Linked DNA regions of Homo sapiens. The protein of the gene in region 2 purifies or fractionates together with the protein of the main gene of each other region. This does not show direct contact. Each region holds a gene or a part of one and is shown on either strand. Other genes may lie near its edges. The genes, in order: OCLN, SLC25A26 and MARCHF5.

What was found.
Region 1: the proteins of SLC25A26 (region 2) and OCLN purify together in Homo sapiens (affinity purification with mass spectrometry; one large-scale study listed by BioGRID and IntAct). This does not show direct contact.
Region 3: the proteins of SLC25A26 (region 2) and MARCHF5 purify together in Homo sapiens (affinity purification with western blotting; one study listed by BioGRID). This does not show direct contact.

The regions. Positions count from the first base shown.
Region 1 is NC_000005.10:69,548,179-69,551,831, forward strand, and holds part of OCLN (occludin), read left to right. Parts: intron 1-3,365; coding exon 3,366-3,407; intron 3,408-3,653. UniProt on the Homo sapiens protein: May play a role in the formation and regulation of the tight junction (TJ) paracellular permeability barrier.
Region 2 is NC_000003.12:66,374,349-66,378,001, reverse strand, and holds part of SLC25A26 (mitochondrial S-adenosylmethionine carrier protein), read right to left. Parts: intron 313-3,653; coding exon 195-312; 3' UTR 1-194. UniProt on the Homo sapiens protein: Mitochondrial S-adenosyl-L-methionine/S-adenosyl-L-homocysteine antiporter.
Region 3 is NC_000010.11:92,311,613-92,315,265, reverse strand, and holds part of MARCHF5 (E3 ubiquitin-protein ligase MARCHF5), read right to left. Parts: intron 1-3,653. UniProt on the Homo sapiens protein: Mitochondrial E3 ubiquitin-protein ligase that plays a crucial role in the control of mitochondrial morphology by acting as a positive regulator of mitochondrial fission and as an important regulator of immune response.

The DNA.
Region 1 (3,653 bases), on a different chromosome or scaffold from region 2:
GTTGATAAAAATGTGCTAGTAGTTATCAAACTGCAGTTTCATTGAAGAATAGTTGAGATTGGGTTTTGGATGAAATTCTTTCCTAATAGAAGATTGTACTAATGTATAATAGTTAATAATTACAAAGCACTATTCTGTTTTTTTTTTTTTTTTGAGGTGGAGTCTCGTTCTGTTGCCCAGGCTGGAGTGCAGTGGCGTGATCTCAGCTCACTGCAAGCTCTGCCTCCCGGGTTCACGCCATTCTCCTGACTCAGCCTCCCAAGTAGCTGGGATTACAGGTGCCTGCCACCACGCCCGGCTAATTTTTTGTATTTTTTTTTTTTAGTAGAGACGGGGTTTCACCATGTTAGCCAGGATGGTCTCGATCTCCTGACCTCGTGATCTGCCCGTCTTAGCCTCCCAAAGTGCTGGGATTACAGGCGTGAGCCACCGCGCCCAGCCCCTACAAAGCACTATTCTATGTACATCTATCCTTTCCTATTTAAAATAAAATAGCCAGGCTGGGCATGGTGGCTCATGGCTATAATCCCCACACTTTGGGAGGCCAAGGCAAGTGGATCACCTGAGGTCAGGAGTTAGAGAATAGCGTGCCTAACATGGTGAAACCCCATCTCTACTAAAAATACAAAAAATAGCAGGGCATGGTGGCAGACACCTGTAATCCCAGCTACTCGGGGAGGCTGAGACAGGAGAATTGCTTGAACCTGGGATGGGGGAGGTTGCAGTGAGCCAAGATTGCGCCATTGCACTCCAGCCTGGGCGACAGAGTGAGACTCCATCTCAAAAATTAATAATAATAATAATAAAATAGCCTTATTATCTTTCCTATTTATAAAGCCATTCATTCTTTCTGTAGAAAAGAACTTAAGCGGCCGGGCACGGTGGCTAATGCCTGTAATCCCAGCACTTTGGGAGGCCGAGGTGGGCGGATCATGAGGTCAGGAGATCGAGACCATCCTGGCTAACACAGTGAAACCCCGTCTCTACTAAAAAAAAAAAAAAAATACAAAAAATTAGCCAGGTATGGTGGCGGGTACTTGTAGTCTCAGCTACTTGGGAGGCTGAGGCAGGAGAATGGTGTGAACCCAGGAGGCGGAGCTTGCAGTGAGCCAAGATCGCGCCACTGCACTCCAGCCTGAGTGACAGAGTGAGACTCCATCTCAAAAAAAAAAAAAAAAAAAAAAAGAACTTAAGTAACACAGAACTGTATACAGAAAAAGAAATCATCTTAAATCCTACCATCAAGAAATCCTTATCACCAAAATATTAGTTAAAACAATCTCTCCAAGCAGGAGTCACCAAGGCACATACACCTTTCTTTAAGGAAACATCATCTTCCATGTTTCACTTATTTTCTTCCTGTCTTTTAAATCAACAGTTTATGGGTTTTTTTTTTCCCTCCCTTGATCACCTGGCTGAGATAGAATTTGTCCATGTAAAGTTACTGGATTTTTTTTTCAATCCATCCTTTTCATACTGTATTTTGTATACATACTGAAATTAATGTAGTTACACCACCTTTTAGAGGGAGATTAATCTCTTCTTGTTTATTTGTTCCTTTATTGATCAGTCAATCACTTACGTAAGTATGGACTTTACAGATACCTGTTTTATACTGTGAATTATAATCCAAGGCTGCTTTATTTTGTAGCTCTAATTGTTCTCGCTTTGACGGTTGGGAACTTTCAGTTGCTTCCCGTGTCCCTTTGACATACTCTTATTGTGGGGTTTTATCTTTAAAAAAAAAACAAACAAAAAAACTTCCTTGCACTGCTTATTTCTGGCTTTTCTTAACAGCAAGTTTTTTTTTTTATATCAATAATAAAGACCTACTTACTTTTAAGTTTTTTATGTGTAAAATTAGGTAAACAACTTTCAAATTTATGGTTGTATCATAATTTAAGAGTCATTTTCTATGGATAGACATTTAAGTATGTCTCCCCCTACTCCAGTAGTACCAGTATATACTGGTGAACCTCTCTGTTTTTGCACTCTTGTCTACTTATCTAATTTTTTTTTTTTTTTTTTTTTGAGACGGAGTCTTGCTCTGTCGCCCAGGCTGGAGTGCAGTGGCGCTATCTTGGCTCACTGCAACCTTCGCCTCCTAGGTTCAAGTGATTCTCCCGCCTCAGCCTCCCGAGTAGCTGGGATTACAGGCATGTGGCACCACACCTGACTAATTTTTGTATTTTTAGTAGAGACGGGGTTTTGCCATGTTGGTCAGGCTAGCCTCGAACTCCTGACCTCAGGTGATCTGCCTGCCTTGGCCTCCCAAAGTGCTGGAATTACGTGTGTGAGCCACAGTGCCCAGCCTGCTTATCTAACTAAAACTAATTCCAGAATGTGAAATTGCTGAGAGTCAGAGGGTACGTACCTTTGCAAAGTTGCAAAATTGCCCTCCAGAGAGACTGCACCAACTGTGTCTCCCTCTTGATACAATACAGGACTCATTTGATGCACATCTCATTAAATATTCTGCCATTTTTCAGTTGAGGTGATCTACTTTTTAGTTTTGACGTATTCACATCTTTATATAGTTAGATTTATGTATTTCTTTTATGGTTTCTATAGGGTGTTATAGATCTTTCTTAATTTAGTGAACATTTATTGATCACTTATTTTTCTTTGATGATGTGGAAATGCTGGAGCTAGAGACATAAAATCTTGTCCCCACCCTAAAAGAGCTTATATTTTAAGAAAAAAAACCTGACATCTAAACAATTTAGACAGTATGATTAATGCTGTATTTGCATCATGTGTAGAAAGCACTATAACTAACTGCTCATAGAAGAAATAAAGTCTTTGGAGGCTTCACAGTGAGGGAATCGTTAAGAGCTTTCCAGACAGAAGGGTGCGGGGAGGTGCATGATTACAGCCATAAGGAAAACATGATTGAAATCCTGAAGCATTTAACATGTCTCAGTTTTTAAAGGAGTTGCTGATGATGGGTACTGAGACTGGAAAGGTAGGAAACTGGATGAGGGGAGAAGTTAATGGGAAGCTCAGACCAGTTGTGTAGTGGGATATTACCTGATCAGCGAGCGCTCTGTGTTATAAAAGATCTTCCTGGTGTCAATGTAGCATGGGGACTGGCATGAGGAGAGATGAGAAGTAGCAGAACAGATAGTTACCTGCCTATGTGAGTGAAATGTGAAAGATACAGTATCATAAATGTCTCTTCACTGAATTCCTTCAGACCTTCCTGCTGATCATGAGTTTTAAGAGCTTTACGACTTCATTCTTTTAATTGCTTATATTTTTGTCATAAGCTGTCATTTTTAGCTCCAAAGTATAACATCAGGAATGTTACTTTTAAAAGAGAAAATGCCCCAGTAAACATATTCCTTTGTGTCTGTCGTTAATAGGCTGCTGCTGATGAATACAATAGACTGAAGCAAGTGAAGGGAGTAAGTATCCGAGATTGTTCTTTTAGGAAGAACTTTCTTTCTTCTTCTTTTTATTTTAATTCCCATACCTACTCATCTGGAGGAAGAGCTTTTCTATTACATGTTTTTCATTTTTTATTTTATATATTTTTTAAAAGTTGAAGTATACATACAGAAAAGTGTATAAATCAAAGTGTATAACATGGTGAATTTTCACAATGTGACCACATACCTGCGTATGCAGATCAAGAAATATATTTCCCAGTA
Region 2 (3,653 bases):
TAGCTCTCTGGCATACAGGCCAATGACTTCATACCAGCCAGCCTATACCACGGATGGCACAATCTCCATGCCGGTATCTTAGCACAACTGGTCTTCAGCACTGGGGCCTATAGTTCAGACAGCTGCTCAGCGGAAGAGGGTTTGCACTGCAGGCCCCTCTCTTGACAGAAGTGGAGGTGAGGCTTGTCTCTGCTTCAAGGACTCTTTCTGCCAACTTCCAACAGCAAGCTGTGCGTTCGGTCATAAGCCCCCAGAAAGATGAAACCTCCCAGACTGATGGCTGCCATTCGAGGGAAGACACCTGCAAATAATCTAGGGGAAAAAACAGGATTTTTAATGTTGTGCGTATTTTAAAAAAAGGTTAAATTCCAATACCCACAGCTTGCTCAGCTCAATACACCATGCTCATTAGTGGCTAACTACCAAACAGCTTGTGAACGCTCCCAAATAAGGCAAGTAATAGCTGTGTCCCAACAGTAGTTCTAAAACTTTCATGCCATTTTTCCCTTTGAAACATGAAATTGATTTTTTTTAAAAAGGTGTTAAAGAGCTGAATCCTAGGTAAGGCTGGAAGGCACTTCCAGCCCACACCTCTAAAGTGATCTCCAGGGGTTGCTCAGTGAAGAGATTTTTGGGCAATGCTGCCGCTCCACCCACTGACTCAGTTGCATTTTGTCCTTCGAGACCCCAAAACATGACGTCACGACAACGAGTTGAACCTCCATGGATTCCCTGTGTTCCTTTTCTGTCTAAAGGCATGAAAGGCAAATGGGCTGTGGCTGTGAAGGGGGCAGCATGCCTCCACCTGCACAGTCCCCTTGGTATCACAGAAGGTGCTGCTAACCAGCCAAGGTGCAATGTAGAATAATCAGAGCAATGCAAAGTAAAACTACAATGCCACGAGGATACAAATTGGGGATTCATTCTTTAAAACTGCCCCCCCTCCCCATACCTACTCAGATATTTGTTCAAAAATTTTCATTGTGGCATTGCTGATGGTGATATAAGTTATGGCACAGTATAAACATACAGTGGATGATTATGTAGCTGATAAAGATGAGGAAATCTACAGATGCCAACATAAAAAAATTACAAAACAGGTTTAAAAAACTAAGTCCAAGGACTATGATTCCATATCTAAAAGGCAAGCCAGGGATGTGTCTTAAGCCCTAAACTGAATGCCTGCTGCCTGTGGATTATAGGACACATTCCTGGCCCACGCTTCCATAACCTTTGAACCTTTTCACCAAGAGTACAGGCATGACTCAGAGATATTTCAAGTTTGGTCCCAGGCCAAGTTTGGCCACCATAATAGTGAATATTGCAATAAAGCAAGCCATTCAAATTTCTTCGTTTCCCAGGGCACAGAAAAGTTATGTTTCTACTACAGTCTATTAAGTATGCAGTAGCAATTATGTCTAAAAATTGTACATACCTTAATTTTAAAATGCTTTATTGCTAAAAAATGCTCATGAGCATCTGAGCCTGCAGTAAATTGTAATCTTCTGGCTGATAGAGGGTCTTGCTTTGAATGATGGCTGCTAACTGACCAGGGTAGTGGCTGCTGAAGGTTGGAGTGGCTGTGGAAATTTCTAAAAATAGTAATTGTTGCATTGATGGACTCTTCTTTTCATGAAAGATTTCTCTGTAGCACACAATACATTTTGCCCACAGTAGGACCTCTTTCAAAATTGGAGTCAACCGTCTCAACTCTGCCACTGTTTTCTCAACTAAATTGATGAAATATTCTAAATCGTTTATTGTAATTTCAACAGTGTTCACCGTATCTTCACCAGGAGTAGATTCATCTCAATAGATCACTTTCTTTGCTCACCCATAAGAACCAACTCCTCATCCGTTCAAGTTTGATCATGAGATTGTGGCAATTCTTTACATCTTCAGGCTCCACTTCTGACTACGGTGGTCTTGCCATTTCCAGTACATCTAGTATGTGTTTCCCTCCACTAGTCAGCCATGAGGATTGGAATCAACTTCTTCCAAAGTCCCAGCATGGTCAATATTTTGACCTCCTATGAAGCCACTAATGTTCTTACTGGTATCTAGAATGGTGACTCCTTTCTAGAAGGCTTCCAATTTACTTTGCCCACATCTAGCAAAGGAATCACTGTTGATGCAGCTGTAGCCTTATGAAATTTAATAAAACCTGAAAGTTAAAGTAACTCCTTGATCCACAGGCTAAGGAATGGATGTTGATAGTAGGCATGAGAACAACATTCATCTCCAGCAGAACTCCAGGGTGACCAGGTACACTGTCAATGAGCGGAAATATTTTAAAAGGAATCTTTTCCTCTGAGCACTAGGTCCCAGCAGTGGGCTTAAAATATTCAAGAAAGCATGCTGTAAAGAGATGTGCTGTCGCTCAGGCTTTGTTGTTCCATTTCTACAGCAGAGGCAGAGTCGATTTAGCACCATTCTTAAAGGCTCTAGGATTTTCAGAAGAGTCAATGAGCATTGGCTTCAACTTAAAGATACCAGCTGCATTAGCCCCTAACAAGAGAGTCAGCCAGTCCTTTGAAGCTTTGAGGCCAGGCATTGATGTCTCCTCTCTAGCTAGGAAAGTCCTAGATGGCATCTTCTTCTAATCGAAGGCTGTTTCATCTACCCTGAAAATCTGTTGTTTAGTGTTAGTGCCTTCATCGATGATCTTAGCTAGATCTGGGTAACTTGCTGCAGCTTCTCCATCAGCACTTGCCACTTCACCTTACACTTCTGTGTTACAGAGATGACTTCTTTCCTTAAACTTCATGAATCAACCTCTCCTAACTTCAAACCCTGCAGCTTCCTCACCTCTCTCAGCCTTCAGGGAAGAGAGTTAATGCCTTGCTCTGGATTAGGTTTTGGCTTAAGGGGATGTTGTGGCCGGTCTGATCTTCTATCCAGACCAAACTTTCTTCGTATGTGCAATGAGGCTGTTACACTTATCATTTGTGTATTCACTGGATAGCACTTTTCATTTCCTTCAAGAACTTTTCCTTTGCATTTACAATTTGGTTAACTGTCACAAGAGGCCTAGATTCTGGCCTATCTCAGCTTTCCACATGCCTTCCTCACTAAATTTAATCATCTCCAGCTTTTATTTTTAATTAATTAATTTTTTTTTTTGAGATAGGGTCTTGCTGTTACCCAGGCTGGAGTGCAGTGGCACGATCGTGGCCCACAGCAACCTCTACCTGCTGAGCTCAGGTGACCCTCCCACCTCAGCTTCCCAAGTAGCTGGGACTACAGGCACACACCAACATGGCCAGCTAATTTTTGTATTTTTTGTAGACAGGGTTTGGCATGTTGCCTAGGCTGGTCTTGAACTCTTGGGCTCAAGCCATCTGCCACCTTGGCCCCCCAAAATCCTGGGATTACAGGTGTGAGCCACCATGCCCGGCCCGAGTTTTTTATTTAAAATGAGAAAGGTGTGATTCTTCCTTTCACTTCAACACTTAGAGGCCACTGGAGGATTATTAATTGGCCTAACTGCAATATTGTGTCTCACAGAATAGAGGCCTAAGGGAGAGAGAGAGGGAATGGCTGGTTGGAGACACAGCCCGAACCCACACCACATTTGTCGATTAAGTTTGCCGTCTTCGGTGGACACAGTGGGTGATGCCCCAAAACAATTACAGTAACATCGAAGACGGCTG
Region 3 (3,653 bases), on a different chromosome or scaffold from region 2:
AGGCTCTTAAGTATTTTGTTTAATGGCTGCATGAAGCCACTAGCGTACAGAGTACGAATCAACTCTTAGTATATACGAATGTAACATGTTAATCAAGAAATACAAGCAACTTTTTAAAAGTTTTAGAAGAAGATATTTTCTTTTAACCAACAATTATTTTTGAAACTTGAATTGAAAAGTTGTGCTGGAATCAGCATAGCTAGAGCACTAGCTTTGTGTGCAGCAATGAAGAGCCCACCACCTGAAAGCCAATTCACACATGGCTTCATTTACAGACAACAGCTGGCTTGAGTCATTGTTAATAACTGCATGGAAAATTGTGAATATAATTAAAATTGCAGCCCTTGAATAGGTATCTTCAGCATGTTAAGAATGCAGCGGCAGGCTGGGCACACAGTGGCTCATGCCTGTGATCCTAGCACTTTGGGAGGCCAAGGTAGGTGGATTGCTTGAGCCCAGGAGTTTGAGACAAGCCTGGACAACATAGCAAGACCCAACCTCTATTGGCGGGGGGGGGCGGGGGGAAGCAGCAGCAGCAAATACTCTGTTTTTCTGTTTTGTCAAGAGGAAATATGCTAACAATACCTACTCAAATGAAGGATATACTTTTTTTTTTCTTTTTTTGAGACAGAGTCTTGCTCTGTCGCCCAGGCTGGAGTGCAATGGTGTGAGCTTGGCTCACAGCAACCTCTGCCTCCCAGGTTCACGTGATTGTCCTACCTCAGCCTCCCAAGTAGCTGGGATTACAGGCGCCTGCCACCACGCCTGGCTAATTTTTGTATTTTTAGTAGACACAAGGTTTCACCATGTTGGCCAAGCTGGTCTTGAACTCCTGATATCAGGTGATCCGCCTGCCTTGGCCTCCCAGTGTTGGGATTACAGGCGTGAGCCACCGTGCCCAGCGGATATTCATTTTTTTTTATAACACTGATGTCATTAAAACATATCTATGATTTTAAGCGGCTAACTCAAGTGCCATACCTCTATGACAGACAGTATAGTGACCAGCTTGAACATATCATTTGAGAGTAAAATTATAATTCTCTCTTTTATTTAAGATTGGTTTCACTCTGTCACCCAGGCTAGAGGGTAGTGGCGCAATCATAGCTCAATGCAGCCCCAAACTCCTGGGCTCAAGTGATCCTCCCAGCTGAGCCTCCCGAGTAGCTAGGACTTACAACAGGTGTGCTCCATCACACTTGGCTAATTTTTTTTCTTTTTCTTTTTCTTTTTTGTAGAGAGACAAGGTTTTGCTATGTTGCCTAGGCTGATCCTGACCTCGTAACCACAAGCAATCCACCCACCTGAGCCTCAAAAGTGCTGGGATTACAGATGTGAGCTACCATGACTGGCCACAATTCTTTTTTGTTGTTCAGACAGGGTCTCACTCTGTCTCCCAAGCTGGAGTACAGTGGCGCAATCACAGCTCACTGTGGCCTCCACCTCACAGGCTAAGGCAATCCTCCCACCTCAGCCTCCTGAGTAGCTGGGACTACAGGTGTGTGCCACCATGCCCAGCTAATTTTTTTTTGTTATTTTTGGTAGAGATGGAGTTTCACCCTGTTGCCCAGGCTGGTCTCAAGCAATCTACTCGCCCCAGCTTCCCAAAGTGTTGGGATTACAGGTGTGAGCCACTGTGACCCGCCACAATTTTTTTTTTTAGCACGGCGTCTCGCTCTATCTCCCAGGCTGGAGTGCTGTGGCGCTATCTTGGCTCACTGCAAGCTCTGCCTCCCGGGTTTACGCCATTCTCCTGCCTCAGCCTCCCGAGTAGCTGGAACTAGAGGCACCTGCCACCAAGGCTGGCTAATTTTTTTGTATTTTTAGTAGAGATGGGGTTTCACTGTGTTAGCCAGGATGGTCTCGATCTCCTGACCTCGTGATCTGCCAGCCTTGGCCTCCCAAAGTGCTGGGATTACAGGTGTGAGCCACCGCGCCCGGCCCGGCCACAATTCTTAGTAACAAAATATGCAGACTAAATAATGATACAAATGGCTTAACCAAAGAGTTTTACTCTTTTCTTTTTTCTTTGAGATGGAGTCTCGGCTCTGTCGCCCAGGCTTGTGTGCAGTGGCACGATCTTGGCTCACTGCAACCTTTGCCTCCTGGGTTCAAGCAACTCTTCTGCCTCAGCCTCCTGAGTAGCTGGGACTACAGGCACACGCCACCATGTCCAGCTAACTTTTGTATTTTTAGTAAAGACATAGTTTCACCATATTGGCCGGGTTGGTCTCGAACTCCTGACCTCGTGATCTGCCCGCCTCTGCCTCCCAAAGTGCTGGGATTACAGGCGTGAGCCGCCACGCCCAGCCAAGATTTACTCTTTTCTAACAACTAGGTAGACTTAAAACCATATTCAATTACTGCACTAAACCTGAAAACATATTTCCTAGAACTGAATTCAACCAAAAGGACAGATCTACACATTGCCATCTCCAAAATTAAAATACTCAACTTTGCTTTCGAGTGCCATACACTTGTCAACTTGATGTAGTTTTCAGTGAGAATTCTTGTAATAATTTTTGTGTCCATTTGAATATCTAAAACATCTAATAGAAATATTTAATTGTTGCTCTTCCCAACTCTATAATTCAAAGGTGGGGCTATCTAATTTAGTACAACTAAGAGCAAGAAAAGAAATCAGTTAAATATGAAACCTTAACTTGGACTTTAGTGAGTCTTTCACCATTCATGTGGTGGTACAATAATGTGAACAATCATTGCTTTTCCTGATACTGATTTAAAAATACTTCTTTGATCTTACAATAAAAACATTTTGAATTATTCTTTTGTGTTTATCTAAAATCAGTGGTATGCACTGAAGACCCATCACATGGTCCACAAATTCCAAATGTTTGAAAACACTACTTTCTCTACTACACTACTTCCCCTTCAAAGGAAGCTATCATTTCTTCCTGTGCATGTTAGAGAAAAACAGAGAACCAAGGACATTTTGTTTGCCCTTATTATTAATCTTCTCATATTAGAAAAGCACTTCATTATCTGCATTTATGTTGCCACATTTTCAAAAACATTGGTCTGATTTCAGTATGAATAGCACTTATAAAAAACAATATATATAATAATTATTTCCAATTTTTCCTGAATTCCCTCTGCCCCCAAAGACATTCTTTCCTTATGACCTTCCCAGAACCCAAGCTGCCTTCCTATACCTCTTGGTTACAGTCAAGGGTTATAAAAAAATGTTTAACAACTGGCATGGTATAAACACCAAACCAAGAGATTGACACCAATTTATAACTGTATGGCTGTAATGGAACAGGCTCACTAAATATCAGCCTTAGTTATACTGCTGCTAAAGAAGCAGCCTTAGAATGCTTCTTGTAAGCAGTCTGCTATACTTTTTTTCCATGCTAGGCCTGTTCTCAAAGATCTTTGGTTATTTCTTACCTGCCACTTCACAGAAAAGGGATAGCAGGGTTCATGAAAGAAACCACATAAATTGGATTCCAAAGATGAGTTTAACGTCACATCTTATTAAATATTTAATTTCTCTACTTTTATTCCTTAAAAGGAAGAATTAAGGAGAAGTATTAGAACATACTACTGCTTTCTTTCTCTTACACCGTCTCCAGATAATTAAGCTAAGTTAGTTTTTTTTTTAAAAGTCAGCTTTTTATTAGAGCTTTGTT